2 separate regions of the Homo sapiens genome follow, and region 1 is linked to region 2. The links come from fine-mapping of genetic effects on gene expression. A gene starts in region 2. The other region holds a variant in brackets. All regions are shown on one strand. Distances are between the middles of the regions. Region 1 overlaps LINC01551 (long intergenic non-protein coding RNA 1551). Region 2 holds the start of LINC02281 (long intergenic non-protein coding RNA 2281).

Region 1 (10,675 bases), 38 kb after region 2:
AGTTCTTTTTATTTTTTATTTTATTTTATTTATTTATTTATTTGAGATGGAGTCCCACTGTGTCACCCAGACTGGAGTGCAATGGCATGATCTTGGCTCACTGCAACCTCCACCTCCTGGGTTCAAGCAATTCTCCTGTCTCAGCCTCCCGCGTAGCTGGGGCTACAGGTGTGCACCACCTTGCCCAGCTAATTTTGTGTGTGTGTATTTTTAGTTGAGACGGGGTTTCACCATGTTAGCCAGGATGGTCTCGATTTCCTGACCTTGTGATCCGTCCACTTCGGCCTCCCAAAGTGCTGGGATTACAGGCACACACCACCGCATCTGGCCTTATCCCAGTTCTTATGTGGCTACATACTTAATATATTTCTACTTAACAAAATAGTAAAATGCCATTTTTTACTATTTAATGTATATTTGCAAACATTTTCTCTCACAGAATTGTTCAATTAAAAATATGCATTTCTAATTAAATAACTAATGTATTTATGAACATTCATTTTCAACTTTTATTTATTTAATAAAGGCTAAAGTTGGTTAGGCTGGCATAAAAAACAAAATTATGATGTTACAATGAACTCTCTAGCCTCCTTTAATTTGCAAACAGGTAATTATATGAAAAATTATAAAATGCATGCACTAAAAAGCAGTTGGAAAAAAACAAATATTTTATATAAGAATTAATAGTGCTATAATCACTAGAAGCAGAAGTATGTACATGAATGTATAATCATCTAAAGAATGTCAATCTTTTGTTTCTTTTATTTCAGGAGGCCATAATCCCAAACAAATTAATGCAGTGATAGAAAACCAAATACCTCACGTACTCACTTCTATGTGGGAGCTAAACATTGAACACATATGGGAACAATAGACACTGCAGACTACCAGAGTGGGGAGGTCGAGATGGGAGTGTGGATGGAAAAACTACCTATTGGGTACAATGCTCACTGACTGGAGGCAATGTATTCATGTAACAAGCCTGCACATGTACCCTGTACCGAAAATAAAAGTTGAAAAAAAAGTCTTTAACTTCACTTAATAACTAAAATGGCCATTTAAAACTGTATCTAAATATGTATCACAAACATGTCTTTTATTAAATATGGATAATAAGGGATATTTTAATCTCTATTAAAAATATCAAAATATAATGCCAGTTTCATATATGCATATTAATTATGAGAAAATAATTAAAATAGTGATTTCTTACAAAGTAGTATCAATATAGTTGAAAATACTCTCAGTGGAAAGGAAACCATTAAATATACACAACGAGTCTCCAACAGATTATTGGTATTAATAAGTAAATTGTTTAGAGTGCTATTTGTTATTATTTGGAATTTATTAGGCAAAGTGTCAAATAAGCAGGCAATATGAATCTCTTTCCTTAACCATAATGAGTAAACACTGTCATGGAAACATTAAAAGTCTTTCATTTGGAAAGACCCCAAGAATTCATGAGCTGAAAGGGTTTTAATATAGGGAACTCTCATCAGTAAAGTGGAACTTTTGAAAAAGCATATTTTGGAGAATCATAGTAAAGTTTTACATTGTTTGTAAAGTTTAACGTCACAGCAATTCTTCATAGAAAAAAATCTTAAATCTAAGATTGTCAATCCACTTCTTTTCGAGTATTGTAGTCACTTAGAAATAGCAGTTAAAATTGAAAAAAAACCTCTTAAAAGCATTGACTTTTATACTTCATTCCAACTAAACAATTCACTATTTACTTATTTCACAGTTAATCTCTATGCTAAATCTGAAAGTATGCTCTCAATAACAACTATAATAAAAGAATGTTGGGATAATGACACAAGATGATAAAAGCAAGGAAATGCTCATTTAAGGATATAATCTCTGTCATATATACGAGCTTTAAGTAGAAATGAGGTAGGATAAATGCTTCACAAAAAGTTATCCAGAGAATTCCTATAGAACAAAGACTTATCAAAAGGTGATACTTTCCAATCCTTGTTGACAAAGACTTTCTAATATAAGATATATTGTTCTATAAAACTATGTGCAAATTAATTTCCTAGGCAAGAGTTCCTCACCATCTTTAGGTAACTGAAAATTTATAGAAGAATCGTAAAACTAATTTTGTTAGTGGCAGTGTTTGGTTAATTAGTAGGGCAGAAGTAATGCTGTGTGGTCAGCAAACCCATTTTTTTTTTCCTTCAGATAGGATCTCACTCTGTCACCCAGGCTGAAGTGCAGTGGCACCATCATGGCTCACTGCAGCCTTAACCTCCCGTGCTCAAGCAATTTTCTCGCCTCAACCTCCTGAGTAGTTGGGTCTACAGGCGCATGTCACCACGTCTGGCTAGTTTTTTAATTTTTATTTTTTGTAGACACATGGTCCCACTATGTTGCTCAGGCTGGTTTCAAACTCTTGGATGCAAGGTATCCTCCCATCTTTGCCTCTCAAAGTGCTGGGATTACAGGCGTGAGCTACTGTGCCAGCCCATTTCTTTTTCCTCCAAAATACACAGCTAAATTATATTCCCACACCTCCCCTGCAATTAGGTTGGGCCATGTGGTTGACTTCAAGTTAATGGGATTAAGGAATTATCCTGCTGGCTCTCCAATAAGCTTTCTTCCCTCCTTACCCAATGTTGTGTATCCTTTGGAAGACTCCAAAGCCCTAAAGAATGGCAGAGTCACTTCCAGGGTTCCTGAATGACTAAATGGGACTCAATGAAACAGATTCACCCCACTCTTCACCCAACTTGCACTGGAATGTGATATGAGGGAATAATAAGTCTTGATAGTATTAAGCCATTGAGAGAGATTTGGGAGAGTCTAGAAGATTATTCATTCATTAATTTATTCCTCAAATATTATAAATGATAAAGAATTACAAAAAATAAATATAAGATCTGATACTTCAGAGGACGGCAATGGCGGGACCGTAATCTATCTAAATATTAGAGTGGAAATAATTTCTAGAAACTATATGATCTCGAGTATTCTGCAATTGGTCCCTGTGAAAATTTTGCTGCCCAAATCATATCCTGAATCAACATCATCTTATTATGATAATAATATTATTACTCTTAGTGATAAAATGTCGAGGCATTATTTTACATTCATGTCCATACTCTGGGCACAGTGCTAAGCATTTATGTGAATTATTTATTTTAATTTTGAAGTGACCGTACGAGGGAATTTTAATAATACACTCTTTACACTGAGGAAATTGATGGTATAAAAGTAAAGGTGATCTCACATCAAATAAATAGTGAATCCAGGATTCAAAAGAAAGTTTTTGACTCTATGGCCATTCTTTAAAGGTAGACAATTGCATTGTGGGTGATATTTGGTTCCAACAAATTATTGTTTGAACAATGATAACTTATTTCAACAATTCTCCTACCCATGTAGTTGTATGTGCACTTTGTATATCACAGAAAAGGCTAGCAAGAAAACCTGAAGTTGACAAATTTATTATAATCCTGGCTTTACCCCTCATACTGGATACTTTACACCCTGACGTTTATCAACATGCCAAAAAATTATCCATCAAATGGGGGTACACAGCAAAGAAATCACAGGTTGGGCTCCATGGCTCATGCCTGTAGTTCTAGCACTTTGGGAGGCCAAAGCAGGCTGATTGTTTGAGCCCAGGAGTTCAAGTCAAGCCTGGACACCATGGCACAACCCCTTCTCAACAAAAAATACAAAAATTAGCCGAGCGTGGTGGAGCATGCCTGTAGTCCCAGCTACTCAAGAGGCTGAGGCTGGAGGATCACTGGAGCCTGGGAGGCGGACACTCCAGCCTGGACAACAAAATGAGATTCTGTTTCAAAAATAAAAATAAAAATAAATAAATAAAGAAAAAATGAAATTATAATGTTTTACCCAGAAATTATTCATTTATGACAAATTGTTATGAGAAAAACCTCACTAAAGGCCAGGATCATTGCTCACTAAAATGTTTCTACCATTATAAATAGTATATTTGAAATTTGTGTGATTAGTTTATTTTCTTTTAATCTTTTCTGAGACAGGGTCTTCCTATCTTGCATGAGCCAGAGTGCAGTAGTGCAATCAGCTCACTGCTACCTTGAACTCTTGGGCTCAAGAGATCCTCCCACCTCAGCCTCCCAAGTAGCTAGGACTACAAGCATGTGCTACCATGTCTGACTAATTTTTTGGGGGGTAGAGGGGGATAGAGACAGGGTCCTACCATGTTGACTTAGTTGGTCTCAAACTCCTGGCCTCATGTGATCCTCCTGTCTTGGCCTCCCAAAGCACTAGGATTACAGACATGAGCCACTGTACCCAGCCCTGACTGATGTATTTTCTAAGAACACAGCTACTTTGACAGCTAAATAATAATCCAGAATGTTGTTTGAAAAACAAGAATTCTGAATGAAAAATTTTATGGATAGAACATTTAATAACATCAAGTTTAATTAGCCTGATATTAATTCACAATAGTAGTGGCCTTGTCACTGGGACTGAAGTCCAGTGGAATAAAGTCCCCACCCTCGTCTCTGAATCATATTTGAGTAGGGAATTCTTACGCTGTTTCTGGCTTTTCTTTAGTAGCTTTCATGGCTAAATTTTTTTTTCTGTAAATATGTAATAGCTTCTATTAGTTTTTGTTAAAGCCTGCTGGATAGGAATTAATCTGTTAAGATAACTTTGCACATATTTTGCTGATCTATTTTGTTAAATCTGCAATTTTAACAACCAAAGGGCAATCTCATTTTGTGTTCTTTATTTCAAATTTCTTGCTCGTGCCTTTCTCATTATAATCTATAAGAATCAACAAGAACTGAAAATAATTTCAGGACAAGAGAATGTACACTGAAAAATCCTGGCTATCTATGAGAAATGAGTGAAGATAAATAATTGCAGCTGTTCTCTTTTTCTTTCACTTAAGGTAGAAACAGTGTGTTCACAGAATTCAGTTAATTATTACAATACACATCTTGATTACCATACCAAAACTCTCCAAATTCTTCCTATAAGAGGTACAATGTTTCTTTATAATGGTGCCAAACTGGTACCAATGGTAGGCAACAACTGCTGCACTGGAAGGAAGTAGTTCATAACTAAAAGCTAATATACAGTGTCAGAGAAAAGTGGTGCTACATCAGTTGCACTCCATCAATAAAAAAACTAGGTCTGTTCAAGCTTTATGCTGCCACAGTGCCGTGAACTTCAAGAACATTATCCAGTGGCTATAGTCTTAGTGTTCCTTTTTCCAACTAAGCAAATGCCAAGAGGAGTGCCTTCCCACAAACAAATGTGTAGGTGACAGTAAATGCAATAATAAGACTAATTAATCCACTGGGTGCTTCAAAAGTGGAATGAGTCAGCCCGACAGAAACATATAATTTTTTTTTTTTTTTTTTTTGAGACGGAGTCTCGCTCTGTCGCCCAGGCCGGACTGCGGACTGCAGTGGCGCAATCTCGGCTCACTGCAAGCTCCGCTTCCCGGGTTCACGCCATTCTCCTGCCTCAGCCTCCCGAGTAGCTGGGACTACAGGCGCCCGCCACCGCGCCCGGCTAATTTTTTGTATTTTTAGTAGAGACGGGGTTTCACCTTGTTAGCCAGGATGGTCTCGATCTCCTGACCTCATGATCCACCCGCCTCGGCCTCCCAAAGTGCTGGGATTACAGGCGTGAGCCACCGCGCCCGGCCTGAAACATATAATTTTTGTTCCTTTATTATTATTTCTTCTTTACCTGTGGAGCCAGAGGCAAGGAAGATGACCAAGAATTCAGACATAGGAGAGATCTGGATAAACTTAGGAACCTGTCTAATAGTTTAGACCCTGGAAGATACTGTAGAGGAAAGTTGTTTATTGTTGTTGTTTGTTTGTTTGTTTTTTTTAGTGCTGAAGTAACTTTCTCTGGAGACACATCATGAGCACTGTAAAGAACGTTGTTCTTCCCCAAATGCCTTTCTTCCTGGATCCAGCTACTTTTCTTTGAGTTGGAGAACTCATACTTGAAAATCTCTGATTGACAACAGCACACTGATGAGTAGATATTATTGGATGGGAAGCTGATGATCATGCCAGCCTTCACTGTATTGACTAATGAAAAACCTCTGAAAATAACAACATGAAAAGGACAAGGAAAAAGATTATCAGTATAGAAAAGGCAAAATTTCTTAATAAGAGAAATAAAGATAAAAACCTGATTACCAAAGCAA[G/A]AACAATTTTAAGGTATATTAATACCACGTTTGCAATTTTAAAATTGTTATGGTGATTTGCTATGTTGTTAAGTTCACCAAGTTTTATTTTTTATTATAGAGTTAATTTAATTGATAATAAAATGAAAGAAATTTTATTTAAATAAGTATTGTCTATCATGTCACCATAAAAATTTGGTAAGGTCTGAATACTCAAGCTATTTCAGTAAAGCAAAGAAAGGTAAATTACTTGTGCATAACCGAGCAGGTGCAATGTTATCCCACACACACACAAAAATATGATTAAATAAATAAAAGGAGCCAGATGCAGTGGCTCACAGTACTTTGAGAGGCTGAGACAGGTGGATCACCTGAGGTCAGGAGTTCGAGACCAGCCTGGCCAACATGGTGAAACACCATCTCTACAAAAATACACAAACACACACACACACACACACACACACACACACACACACACACAGTAGCCAGGCATGATGGCAGGTGCCTGTAATTGCAGCTACTCGGGAGGCTGAGGCAGGAGAATCGCTTGAGCCCAGGAGGTAGAGGTTGCAGTGAGCCAAGATCATGCCACCGCACAATAGCATGGGTGACAGAGCGAGACTCCATCTAAAAAAAAAATAAACAAATAAATAAAAGGAATTTAAAAGAGAAAATTCCAAGGAAGTCTTGGAAAAAAAAAATCTTACAGATTCTACACATCTAATTGTATTACTGTATTTGATTATTAGCAATGGTACAACTATAAAAGATATGACAATACAAACCAAACTCAGCAACTATATGGTTTCATTTGATTCTGCTTAAAAAGTTTCTGTAGTCAGCAACAAGATGAGCCATATTAATGGAGAGAAATCAGAAGAAACACAAAATTCTAAAAGAAAAAATACATATACTCCAAAGAAAAACTGGAAGAAACAGCTGACAAAACACTTAAAATAAGAGATCACTGCTATCTGGCTAAACTAATGAGTGGGAAAATAACTCAAAGAAGAATGAAAACTTTATTATGTCTCCACTACTAATGAACAATAGCTTGGGATACTTGTCTAAAAACTGTACTTTTTTTTTTTTTTTTTTTGAGACAGGATCTCTTTCTGTTGCCTAGACTGGAGTGGAGTGGCACAATCATAGCTCATTGCAGCCTTGACTTCCAGGGCTCAAGTGATCCTCCTACCTCAGCCTCTGCAGTAGCTGGGATCACAGGTGCACACCACCTCAAAAAACTGTACTTTTGGACAATGACTTTTGGTTAGTGGTTGTTTTGAACTCTGTAACTTAATAGTATGTGCATAATAAATAAATAAATAAATAATGGGCCAGTAAACTTTTCCTGATTACTTTCAAGAAAGAATCTGAAGCTTGATTATAATGGTGGAGGAAGCTTCCATTTTAGAGAATAACTTGTTAGTCCTATGTAATTATATTCTGAGAGACAAGATTTGACTTTCAAGTCCCAAAAAGTCATTATCATGATGCTCTACTTTAGTCATGTAACTGCAGATTTGTAAGAGTTTTCTTTTTTAAAAACAGGAAATCAAAAGGAATAAAGTACTAGCCAAATTGACAATGATTTCTTTAAATTTATGGGAAACGCAGTGCCTGTAGTTCATTATTTCAGTGACACATTTGGTTTGTCTTGTCAATAACTATTAAATGGGGGCAGTATATAAAGACGAAGAAGCATTTCATCTTTTTCCATCAGAAAAAGAAAATGCATTTATCCTGTGAATTACCTGTACTATTTCATGCATAGCACCTGTATTGCTGCCACACATCTGTGGAAACACAATATCAGCCAACTGTTAATCAAGGATCACTTCCCTTCAAAGTGACTGATGATCCACTGTTAAAACAGCTTATAAAAATAACTTCTTTGAAAAGGTGCTTCAGGGTTTTCAGACACATCTTACCAGTCCTGCTAGCTTAATGCATGTTTGAAAGTTAATTTCTCATTAATATTTAAAGAAGAAATGGCTTCAGAACAAAATTTAAATAATCCATTTTATTTTAGAAATACAACATTATTGGCATTATTTTCATTTCGATTACAAGGAGTGATAATGTCCAAGATTGGCTTTTAAAACTGTTAATGAGCCCTGGCAATGCGAAAAAGATATGGATTAGGTAGATGTAATGAGATATGATTAAAGGGTGCAGGCACTGAAGGGTGTTGGAGAAATTCTATTCAGAAAGCGTATAATTAGTGTCTGATAAAACTACTTAGTAGATAAGGTTTTTGAAGAAGAAAGGTTAAGATAAACACATACTTTATGACAAACCTGTTTAATTTTTCCCCTTTGGTTCTCTTACATACTCAATATTATGTTGAAGTTTCATACATAAATAATGTTTGTCGAATACTTGATGCAATTCTACCAGACAATTAGAGTGTTTTAATTGCCAGACAGGAGAGAAGAAAATGTGTTGAAACATCTTATTCCATTTTCAGTGTACATTTCTTTGTTGATTTATGTAATGTGGCTAATAATATGCAACCTATCCAGGTTTTAAACAAACAAATGAACTTCTAAAAAGCAAGCTTTCCATAAGTTGCTAAGCAACTCCAAAGGCACATTTTATTAATTTAATAAATAACATTTAGATGAAGACAAATCCTTAAGAAGATTTCTAACTTTATTTTATAAAAAGTAGAAAATCCAAGCAGGTACCCTTCTGATTTTCTTGTCTCTAAGGCCTCAGGGGTAGGCAAAGTTACTGGGATATTCAGTTATATTTGTCTCACTAAGCAAAACATTTCTTCGATTGAAATTGTTGCCATAATAGAAGTTAAGACCTGGGACTCATGGTGCAGCTCTCCAGAGTTGGAGCTCATGCTTCATTCCCATAACTGAGGGTTTTCCAAGCTCAGAATGACTGACATTTTGGACATAGTAGTCTGTGGTTATGGGGGTCCATCCTGTGAATTTAACATGTTCAGCAATACACTGGTCATCTATCTACCAGACGTCAGTAGTGGCCCCAGAGGTGCTGTAACTAAAAAATGTCTCCAGACATTGTGAAAAGTCTCCCAGGGGAGGAAAGGGACAAAAATCACCCCAGTTGAGAACCACTGCAATTGCATAATGGGTGGATATGCTAAATGCAAAAAAAAAAAAAAAATATCTAGAGCTTAACTGGTGATGAAAATATTTTGGGGTTAGTTGCCTTCTCTCAATGTCTAACATCCCCTGTCACTATCAATAATGAAGAATAAGGGGGTAGTACTGATTCCAGTGGTACTCTGGCTTTTGTTCTATGCAAGATTCATTCCTGATTTCATCATTTCAATGCAATTTCAATTGTATAAAAATTGAGGAGAAGGGACGTAATGATAGCTCTGACTATAGCCATTCTCTAACAGTACCACATTCCAGAACTGCACTAATCTTTTCTCCTGCAATTTTCCCTATATTCAGTTGCTGGCTAGAATCTTTATTTATTTATTTATTTATCTTATTGAGACAGTCTTGCTCTGTCGCCCAGGCTGGAGGTCAGTGGCACAATCTCAGATACACTGGTAGCCGCTGCCTCCCCGGTTCCAGCTATTCTCCTGCCTCAGCCTCCTGGGTAGCTGGGATTACAGGCTCATGCCACCGCACCTGGCTAATTTTTGTATGTTTAGTAGAGACAGGGTTTCGCCATGTTGGCCAGGCTGGTCTCGAACTCCTAACCTTAGGTGATCCGCCCACCTCGGACTCCCAAATTGCTGGGATTACAGGCATGAGCCACAGCGCCCAGCCTAGAATCATTTTTAAAATAAAACTCAATTTTAGTAATGTCATCCTCTGCTCGTAGGGCCACCATGGGTCTTTATTACCTCTACTATCAAATAGAAACTCCTCTGAATGGTCTTTAAGTTTTCCTTCAATTTACCACCAAACTCCATCTCATCAAACGTCTTTCTCATCTTTATTTATGCCCCCTTTATTCTTCTTACACACAATCAACTTGCATATTCCAATCTCCACGTGTGACATATACAGGACAAATTCATTTCCTAAAGTTTTACTAATTATTCCTTCCTTTACTTCTTATCAATATCATATTCTACTATAAGAATGACAGGACTGCAATTATTGTGAGGTAATTATTTACTGAATGCCTTCAATATGCCAGACACCGAATATGGGTTAGTAGCTGTTTCTATCAATTTACATTTCATTATTTTGCCCAACCAGATTGTAAGTTCCCAGAGGGTAGGAGCAGGTCTTATTTGTATCCCTCTGACACCTCTTAATAATGATGCTAATAAATATGCTTTATATTGACTTGCAACTATAACATTTCAAATCACTGTCATGATTACTAGCTCACTGGTTATATATTTTGAGTATTTTACAGTCAATGAACGTGGGTCATTAAATGCTCTAGGGAACAGACTGTGGATTACACAACCAGTGCTGAGTAGATATGCATTTAAAACATGATGAGCAACTGAATTCAGTCTCACAACTTCACAACTCTTAACTGGTTACAAAAAAAATTCTTTTGGCATTTAAA
Region 2 (10,675 bases):
GCTGATCTCTGTCAGAGGCACAAACATGAGATTGTGAGAGATTAAGTGTCTTGCCCAAGATTACATCAATTAGTTGGTGGCAGCCAGGATTCAAATGTGATTTTTGCTCTGCCATAATTCCTAAAGTCTGTACATGATAAATTTGTCCTTAGAGATTTGCATGAAAAAAACTATGGTTAAATAAATCTGGGAGTCATTACATACTGTATCATTCTCTTAGAAATTTAGCTTGTCTAGTTACATACTAAAAGTTCTGCGAAGTTCTGGATTTAAAGGGAGGAAATTATGTTTAAATTGATTGATTCTTTCCTTCATTCAACAAATATGCATTAAACCCTCAGCAAATTCAAGGTGTTCTAGGCAAAAGAAAGAGCACATGCAAAGGCCTCAAGTCAAGAAAAAGCTGGCTTGTTAGAAGAATTTACAGAAGGCTAATAGTCCCAAAGTGTAGTAGGGGCATAAGAACAGTAAGAGATGAGGTTGTAGAAGGTGGCAAAGGCCATATCAAACAGGAATTAATAGATCATCAAAAGAAATTTGGATTTTTGTTCTAAATAGAAACAGAAGCCATTGAAATAGTCAGTCTGACAATAAATGTATTTGGCCGCAATCCTATTTATTCTCATAATATTTAAATAAACATGTTATGCTGCTTTACACTCTGCTGAGCCCCTTGCATTAGACCGGAAGGTGGAAACTGTTAGTGACCAAGATGGGTTTTTAGTCTATATAGTCATTATAGACCTAACACCTAGCATAGACCATTCAAACAGTAGCTACTCAATGAAGGATTTGTTGAATGAATTGAAATCATGAAGGGATAGACAGCTATTACATTTGACAAATGTTTAAAAGAAATAGAAATGTTTTACCCTGACATGTAGAAAACATATGATCAGGGAAGAAGACGTAAGCCTTCAAATTCACAGTGGTGCCAGAAGACAAATTAGACTCACCAAGTAAGCCTCAAGAAGGTGTACCTAGGAGCAATAAGAGGTAGTTATTGAGAAGCCGACAATAAAATGCACATGTCATGAAGTAGTGCATTTCTCATCACTTGATGTTGTCCAACAGAGAATAGAAAACAGTTATGGAGAATATCACAGGAAGGATTTCTTCATCAGTTGAAAGCTGGATTATATACTTTAAAAACATCTTTCAACCCTAAGATCCGGGATTCTATTTGCAAAGAATCTGAAGACAGAAAAGAGTAGGTGAATTGAGTGTGGCCAGAGAGAACTTCTGAACAACAAAAATGTGTAATTTAGCAAACTTTTATCTAAGAGAATAAAGGTAATTATTAAGTGTAAGATGTCAATATGAAGATATTATTCTACTCCCCAGTCTGACACTAATATAAAACAAACAAAAATAATAAAATGATAGAAAAACAATATCATCTATAAAGTCCATAAAACTCCCAGAACTGCAAGTCAAAAACCTGTAAAATCTGTCGGTAAAATTAAGGGAGAATTCCAAGAGTTGATACATACGTCCCCCGATTTCATGTAGGCAGAGACATAACCAGCCAACCTTTACCTACAATGACTCATTCTAAAACACAGGGAAGCCTGGGAAAATGAGGCATGGAAACTAATTTAGGGAAAACAGGATGTGAGGAAATGATCATGAGAATAAGCTCCTTGAGAATTCACAGAATCCTGAAAATATTTCTGACATAATACACAAGAAAATGTTAATAGTTGAAAATTTTAGGAGATGGGTTAGGTGTGTAGAAAAGGGAGTACTTCTAATTTCACTTCATACCTTTCTCTACTCTTGGAGCTTTTGTCAGTAAAGATTCATACAGTTTACATTTAAAACTAATTTCAGAGGGATAAAAATGATGAAAGTAATTTTATGCTGAATATATGGAAAATGATTTAAAGGAGACATATCTTTAGAGCTATTATAAATTTGAGTAAATGAGCAAATTAAGAGTTCTCTAAGGAGGAGGTAACAGAATAGACAATATAAAATGTATTCCACTTCTAGATTCTACAATCCTATTAAAAAAACAAGTTCCATTAACCTGAACTTTAAATTTGATTGGAACAATTATATTCTCACCACTCTGTAGGAACATCTGGTAACTAGTCAGAAATAACTTGTACTCATTAATAAAAGTCTAGCCCTCCCATAAACAATAAGCATAAGTACATGTACTAGGTTTAGGTCTAGGCTGAGCAACAGCAGAGATTCTAAGTGCATGTTCTTCCTATTCTCTAGAGTTTAGGTATGTTGCCCATGAGTAGTACCTTAAGACACAGATTTCAATGGAAAAAAAATATGAGTGAGTGAGAAGATATTTTTTCCAAATTCTAAAGTTCCGGTGGATTTCAGCTGATGAGCATATTTTGTCTTATGCTAAATGTATTACTTTGAAAATATTGTTGTGATTGCAAAATATTTTAAAGGGACATTTTCTTTTAATGCCATTTAAAGAAAATGACCTGGAGCTTTGCTGAAGTAATTCCATTGGCCTTTCTCTTTTAAGAAATCTACATTCCACCCAAAGCATCTGTAGGCTACAGAATATTATCAGACAACTAATACATCCCAATCAGACTGAATTTATTTATAGACAACGTTCTTTTTGCAATGTTAGATGCCTCATTAACTTGATTCAGCTTGTGCATAGCAAAAATATTCCCTCCCTCTTCAGATTTTTGATAGAGTGAATTATAATTTCTTGTCTCACTCATTATAAACCTTTAGTTTGGAGGACATTTCAGAAATGTGTAGTGCCACTTATGTTAATCCTGGATTACTTGTCCTGGATTAATTATGTGCTGTATTTGTTTTTCTTTGGAAGAAAAATGAAGTGGCATAGTGACCATTCTTACTTTTTACTTCACATGAAAAGTAAGTTAAAATTTAATTTTGCCATAAACATCCTAAAAGAAAATGGAATGCGAATTTGTATTGGAGTAGATTTCATTATTGTCATGATAGTGGAGGTAGGAGTGGGAAGCATCCTGGAGCCTTAATAATTCAGCTTACTTTTAAAATCTGTCTATCTGAGAGCAAAGCTAAGGACATACTGTGAAAAATGAACACATATAACTCCTGTATTATGATCCACATCTTCAAATTTTGAAATTTCCTTTTGAATATATCACTATGCAACTTTGGGTTACATGCTCTTTTAATTTGGTTTGCACTTCTGTAAGTGTGGGAGGGAAAGGATTTTTCTTTCCAAATCCTCCATTAGAATTATTTTAAATGTATCAATTTTAAATGAGGTTTAACAGGTTAAATTGAGCTCAGGAAAAAGATAATTATTTAAAATACTAACTTCTATTTATCTTAAATTCAACATTCCATTTTTTCAATGAATATTCCACAAATAAGTAAGTGTATTTGTTTGTTAATATGAAGTAGTCATAAATTATACTGGGAAATGTTTCCACATTTTGTTTTAAATAAGATGATAACTTTGTGAAGAGGAAGTTTTTTTCTTTAATCACAGTCTGCAATGTTTCAAATCTACAATTTATAATTTTAGTAATCTGTTGTATATACTGGGATATACCTAATATAAAAACATCCCGTATATAGTTTTTAATTGTCTGCCAGCTAAGAGAGAACACACTTACTATCTTGTGGTTCTGATACTATCATAATTATTTTAATCAAACTTCACCACAGAATTTAAAAAGTTATTTCATAGCTGCATCTAAATACTTGAAAATGCGCAACATGACTGGGAATACCTTGTTTCAGGACTTCTGTTTCTAGTCAAGGAAAGATGTAGAAAATCTTTTCACCCTGCAAACAGAAATTTTAAATGCTTTATTATAGGTATTATAAATAAACTTCTGTTCAAATGAAAGGATTAAAAGGATTTCTCTAAGTATTAAATCCCTTGTGTTATTAAAGAAGAAAAAAATAAGAAAAAATGATTTTTACAAGCACCTCCACTCGGGGCTTTGTAATCAAAGACAATAACGTTAACTAGGACTTTTTTTTCCTCTTTCAGACCATAAGCGGTCCTGAATCCATACTGTTTGATAAAAATTCTGATTCTCACAAGAATCTGGGGATTTGTACGAAACAGTATGACCTACGTTCATCAGATGGAATACTTTTCTTTGTGATGGGAAAAGGATTGGAGAACTGAAGTGGTTTAAAATTAAGATGGAGTTTCTAAACTTGTAAAATTGCTCTAGTGCATGCCAAATGGTTTGGAGTATGGTTTAAGCATATGTGACCGGCCTGTTGATGAGCTGTCTTTTTCAGGATACATATATGAAGTTATTTGTAAGCTGGTCCTAGAGAAACTTCAAGTTTACCTGATGATCAGGCTTTGAGACTTCAGGGCACATATGGCATGCCCAAACTAACGACCATCCTCTATTCTAATCACAGTTAAAGTCAGCTGTGGGAGGCTGCCGCCCTTGAATGGTTTATAATCAGCTTGAGACATGAAACTGACTCATTTCTGGAAGTGTGGGGGCTGTTCTTTCACTCTTTTCAGTACATGAATGCCACCATAAAATAAGATTAAATGCTCTGGGGTTTTCCCCGCTGTTTCCCTTCCCTATTTGTTACCTTTTCATGGTATGTGGGCTCATACTGTATTTATGTTTTCTTAGCTTCAAATTATCTCACTCACAATTTTGTATTAAACAGCCTGCTTTGCCCTACTTCTAAAATAGGACATACATTCCTATTATGTTATATTTTCATCACATTGTTTTAAAGAAATGAACACCTTAAAAGTAAATATGTATGATACTTAAACTCGTTAAAGTTAAGTATCTTCCTTGGTGTCCCAATCTATTCAATGTCATCTCCTGGGAGATTACTTGTGAGCTTCTTTCATGTTGTCTAAAGGTAGCTGTAAACTTGTTCTCTAAAATACTATTATTAAGAAATCCCATTGAAATTATAGGCTTTTTTCCTGAGGCTTCCAAACTTCAAGCTACAGAGTTTTATTTCCTTCTCTTAAAAATGTCTTTGGCCTCCTAAATTATAGACACACATCTTCTAGAATTTTATAGAGATTTACCTTACTTGAGTTATTGTTCCTACGGATTTTGAAAAATCTTTCAAAGATCTGTCCTACTTAAGTTGCTCTTGCCTTGAACTTCAGCTAATCTTCCTGAGCAATATCATAAGGTAAGAATCTGATATGACTCTATTAGTCTGAAAATCAGACCAAAAGGCAACTGACTTGTACATATGAAGTATACAGCTTATTGTTACGATAGAGCGAAATAAATATATGAAAAGATAAATAAAAAGGTACTTTTAAAAATGTTTACCTACCATGGACACAGGAACTGGTGAACTTTTTGAAGTCCCCCAAGTTCTTAGCACAGCACTGTTGTCAAGAGTGTTGGCGGGTCGCGGTGGCTCACGCTTGTAATCCCAGCACTTTGGGAGGCTGAGGCGGGGGGATCATGAGGTCAGGAGTTGGAGAACCGCTAGGCCAACACGGTGAAAGCCCGTCTCTACTAAAAACACAAAAAAATTAGCCGAGCGTAGTGGCGGGCGCCAGCAGTCCCAGCTGCTCCGGAAGCTGAGGCAGGAGAATGACGTGACCCCGGGAGGCGGAGCTTGCAGCGAACCGATATCGCGATACTGCACTCCAGCCTGGGCGACAGAGCGAGACTCCCTCTCAAAAAAAAAAAAAAAACTGTTAGGTATATATTACGGTATATATATTAAGGCAGACCTGGGTCGGTCTCATACTGGGTAAGGTGCTGCTAGTTCTTGCTATGGTAGAAAGATATATCAGGCTTTCAGCCGGGCACAGTGGCTCACACCTGTAATCCCAGCACTTTGGGAGGCCGAAGCGGGCGGATCGCGAGGTCAGGAGATAGAGACCATCCTGACTAACATGGTGAAACCCCGTCTCTACTAAAAAAAAAAAAAAAAAAAAAAAAAAAATTAGCTGGTTGTGGTGGCCGGGCCTATAGTCCCAGCTACTCGGGAGGCTGAAGCAGGAGAATCGCTTGAACCGGGCAGCAGTTGGAGGTTGCAGTGAGATGAGATCATGCCACTGCACTCCAGCCTAGCGACACAGCGAGACTCCGTTTCAAAGAAGAAAAATATGTATATATATATATATATATATATATATATATATATATATATGTATAGAGAGAGAGAGAGCAGGCTTTCTCTTGGTTTTAAGATTCTCCTGTCTTTTTTTTTTTTTTTTCCCGAGTTTCGCTCTTGTTGCCCAGGTTGGAGTGCAGTGGCGCGATTTCGGCTCACTGCAACCTCCACCTCCCGGCTTCAAGCGGTTCTCCTGCCACAGCCTCCCAAGTAACTGGGATTACAGGCATGCGCCACCACGCCCGGCTAATTTTGTATTTTTAGTGGAGACGGGGTTTCTGCATGTTGGTCATGTCTGGTCTCCAACTCCTGACCTCAGGTTATATGCCCACCTCGGCCTCCCAAAGTGCTGGGATAACAGGCGTGAGCCACCGCGCTGGGCCAAGATTCTCTCATCTTTAGCACAGTGTCTCTGCCTCTTACCTGCCCTGGATTAATTGCTCCATCTGAATAACTGGTTTCTGCATGCTTCTCAGTTTCTAAGCAGTCACTCAACTCTGACACTTCTGCTTCCTCTTTAACCAGTATCCTTAACATTCTCCCTCATTTTTGACAATGTACTCATCCTGATTATGCAAATGATTACAAATCTCTATCTGAGATATTTGAATCTATAGTTTTAATCTCACAGCACTGATCATCCAGTACCTACAGTACATTCAAGTTATAAGTTCCATGGAGGTAAAAATTCTCTAACTTGTAACTGTATAAAGGCATTAAAGCATGACACTCTAAAGGCATTAAAGAATCAACAAAAGAATGATACTTCTGGTATGAATATAGCTGCAGAAATCAGGATTCTGCATTTCTTTTCTCAAAAATAATTGAAAATAGAAAAAATTTTTAATAATCATGCGGAACTCCAATTTTTGGCAAATTGGAAGACATTTATAATCATAGCTTCCAAATTGATGAAAGAGATCACAAAAGCTATATGGGATAAAACAAAAATTAAAAACCGTAGAGAGGAATATAAGCAAAGAGGGAGCCTTATAATATCAAATCTCAAAATTTTCTGGCAAAAGATATACTTCCTGAAGAGGAGGGATAAGCCCAGAAATGCAAAAATCTATCATCTTATTTCTGCTATGGGTGCATGAACTGGAGTAAGATAGACTGGCAGCAATAGCATTACTGGACCCAGTCTGGTTCCAAGAATAGAGGAAGCAATAATATACAAATAATGACACAGACACTGCACATGTTCTAAAGGCGTTTTTCTGTGGTATTTGAGTAGAAAGGAGACTTTTTGTTGTGAAAGCCAGAAAAATTACATATCAATTCCTATTGTTCTCCAGCACAAAAATCTCTTGCACATATTAAGAAATACAAAATAATTCAACAATAGATACTGAAAAATAGGAAGACATTAAAGGAGGAAGAAAGTAAAGTACAGGCAACAAAAGAGAAGAATACTTAACAGGAAAGCATGAAACAGCAAGTAAAATCATAGCAAATATTTTAGCAAGCATTTTAAAATATTTTATAAAGCAAACTCCACTATGAAGGAAGACACAAAGCAGAAAGACAGAACTCAAAGAATAGACAGCAAAACAATAAAAGAAAATAAATTGCAAACTGGCAGGATTTGGAAAAGAATTAGAAGAAAAAAAGCTGTCACTGATTATGACAGAATTCAGTACAGTACATGGGGTTTATGCTTCTGTCATGATAGGGTGAATGGAGCAAGACTTAATTGTGCACTATAACCAACTAGAAAAATAGAAAAAATAATGCAAATAAAGAGTTTGCAGACATCCTACAACACATATTATATGATTATAGTCAGTAAGAGAAGAAAAAAAATTTAGGTGAGTCTTGTAATCAAACTGGATTTCTCCACCGAAGAACTTTCTGAACCACATTGTCAGGAGGTAGATTCCAAGCAGAGCTAGGTGGTTACACTGAGTTGTGTAGACAGAGATCAGAGTGCTTAGAGTTTTTGAGCCTGAAATTCTGAATGGAAGACAACAGGAAAGGAGAGAACATATAAATAAGTAAATCAGGAAATCTTTACAATCATCTCAGAGTCAGTTGCTGAACACTAAGTCATGCGTATATAGGCCAAGGCAAAAAGCAAAAAGGAAGCTGTGTGTCAAACAATTTCCAGCTCTTACGCAGCTCTGGGAAAAGTTCAAGTTCTCAGAAGCCAGAGTATACATTATTCACTGAATACTCAGAACTTTCTGTAAAAATACCAAGAGGGCTATAGTAGGCATACAGTAAAGATTGTTCTAAATTCACCCTACTAAAGCCTTAAAGAAGGGCTAGAATGGACAAAACTGGACTGCAAGAAACTTAACTGCCTGCCAGAACAAAGAGCAACATATTTTGAAGGAAGACAAAAAATATGACACTCAACAGCATGAAATTCATAATGTCCAGCACTCAATCAAATACTGTTATATACATGGAAAAGCAGGAAAATTAAATCCACATCTAGGAGAAAAACCAGTCACTACAAATAGATCACAAATGACAGAAATGAGGAAATTAGCAGACACCAACATTTAAAAACCTACCAAAACACGGCTCAAGCATGTAAAGAGTAACATGAACATAATGAAGGAACACATAGAATGTAGGACAAAAAGTGTCAAACTTCTAGAGAAATAAATGTATTAAAGAATAAATTCACTGGATGAAATTAACAGTAGATTAGGCATGATAGGAAAAATATCAATGAACTTGAAGACAGTGGTAGAAACTATCCTAAATACAGATCAGAAAGAAAAAAGTCTAAAAAAGAATAAGTAATGAAGTCCCAGTAACTTGGAAAACGATATTAACTGCTGTAACATTAGTATAATTGGAATTCATGGAACAGGTGAGACACTGAGGGTCAGAAAAAATATTGGAAGTAATAATAGCCAAAATATTTACAAATTTAATAAAAATAAGAAATCTTCAGGAACAAAATTAATAAACTCCAGTAAGATAAACACAAAGAAAAACATACCAAAGTACAACAGGAGGGAGTTGTTAAAACCAGTAATAAAAAGAAAATCTTAAAAGCACCCAGAGGAAAATAGACATATTGCATACAAAAGAACAAAGACAAACATGAATGCACACTTCCAGTCAGAAACTATTGAAATCAGAAGACAGCGAAACATTTTAAAGTGCTGAAAGAAAAAACAATCATTTCAAGCTATAATTCTATATCCCCAGAAAAAAAATCCTTCAAAACTAAAGGGAAAATGGACATTTCTTCAGGCAAAGAGTTAATCTATATATTTTTTAAGTTAATAAAAGATTTCAGGGAGCTAAATATATATATATACACACACATATCTATATCTATATCATATATATATATATATATATATATATATATATATATATATATATATACCAAATGGAAACTTGTACCTATATAAAAGAATGGTGAGTACTTGAAAGGGTAAATATTTTGATGAATATACTTTTCTTTTTAAAGATTTCTTTAATTTCTTTAAAGTTGAGTATGTAAGGCAAATATAGAAACAAAATTGATTGAAATTTTATGTAGAAATAAAATGTGAGACAAAAATGGCACAAAAAAAGGGTGGGATGGAAATGGTATAATATTATTTGAAGATACTCTGTGATAAAAGTGTATCAGTCAGGGTTCAGTCATGTCAAAGAAACCATATAGAGTAAGTATAAGATAAAGTTTGAACAGCGTAAGTATAATATAAAGAAAACATTAAAATCTGTTGTGTTTAGTTGTGTAAAGAAGCAGATGGAAGGGATATGAAAGGAAGTAACACTGTTCTGACTATGTCTTTTTGAATAATTTTCATTTTGGAAGTATTCTTCATGTTCAAAAACTTAAACTAAATCAATATTTAACAAGAATGGGGAAAAGATCTAAAACTAATGCAAACAAAAACAAATGAACCCAACTGTAATTCCAAATAAAAAATACTAAATACACTGAAAAGAAAAAATAAAAGAACTAATACAAGTAACTTTTGATCACAAGTATTTTGATTATACACTCTCAATCCAGGTTAAAAAAAAACAGAACTGTTAAGAAATCTTGAACTCTTATTAGTAGGTTTGTTGTAGTACAGATGATTGAACAAATGAGCTGATGTTATTGCAAGTGAGGGTTTCCACTGTGGAGGCAGGGAGATAGAAATATAGAAAAATCTTGTAGGTTTGGTTTGCAAGTGAAAGTATTAATATGAACTTTTACTTTACTTAGATATATACATACACACATGCATATAAATATCATAGCTCTGTTTGTTGGAGAGGTCAAGAAGTAATAACACACCAACAATGAACATAATTTCTGCTCAGATCTTGTTTTCTAAATGCTATTTTCCACTAAAGATACCAGGGGAAGGTCAGGGGAAGTTCAACATGAGTCTGGATGATCTTGTTGAGTCAGGGGGATAGTGCTTAAAAAGTGATGTCAAGAACCCCTAGAATCCAGCCTGTAGGGTCTTCCATTGAATAAATCCAGGAAAATTTGAGCATCAAAACAAATAAGGTGGTAATAGAATGTAACCCAAAGATTAAAATATGAATCCATAAGTCTATACTGAAGAAAGACAGAAGGAAGGAAAGAAGAAGAAAAAGATCTTCATTATAGTAAGCTTTGACTGACGAATAT

Evidence for each region. PIP is the estimated chance that this variant, and not a neighbour inherited with it, causes the effect.
Region 1: its variant is fine-mapped to the expression of LINC02281 in testis (GTEx, PIP 0.99).

The regions. Positions count from the first base shown.
Region 1 is chr14:28,787,275-28,797,949 of GRCh38, reverse strand. LINC01551 (long intergenic non-protein coding RNA 1551) reads right to left here. Exons shown (of 3, transcript NR_026731.1): 3 at 3,156-6,070. Among named protein-coding and RNA genes, the nearest start is that of LINC02282, 6.8 kb to the right of the region's middle. The variant G/A (reference allele first, on the strand shown) is at 6,176.
Region 2 is chr14:28,825,102-28,835,776 of GRCh38, reverse strand. It overlaps LINC02281 (long intergenic non-protein coding RNA 2281), which reads left to right and starts at 5,624. Exons shown (of 4, transcript NR_187181.1): 1 at 5,624-5,703. It overlaps LINC02327 (long intergenic non-protein coding RNA 2327), which reads right to left and starts at 5,542. Exons shown (of 4, transcript NR_184199.1): 1 at 5,275-5,542; 2 at 3,717-3,771.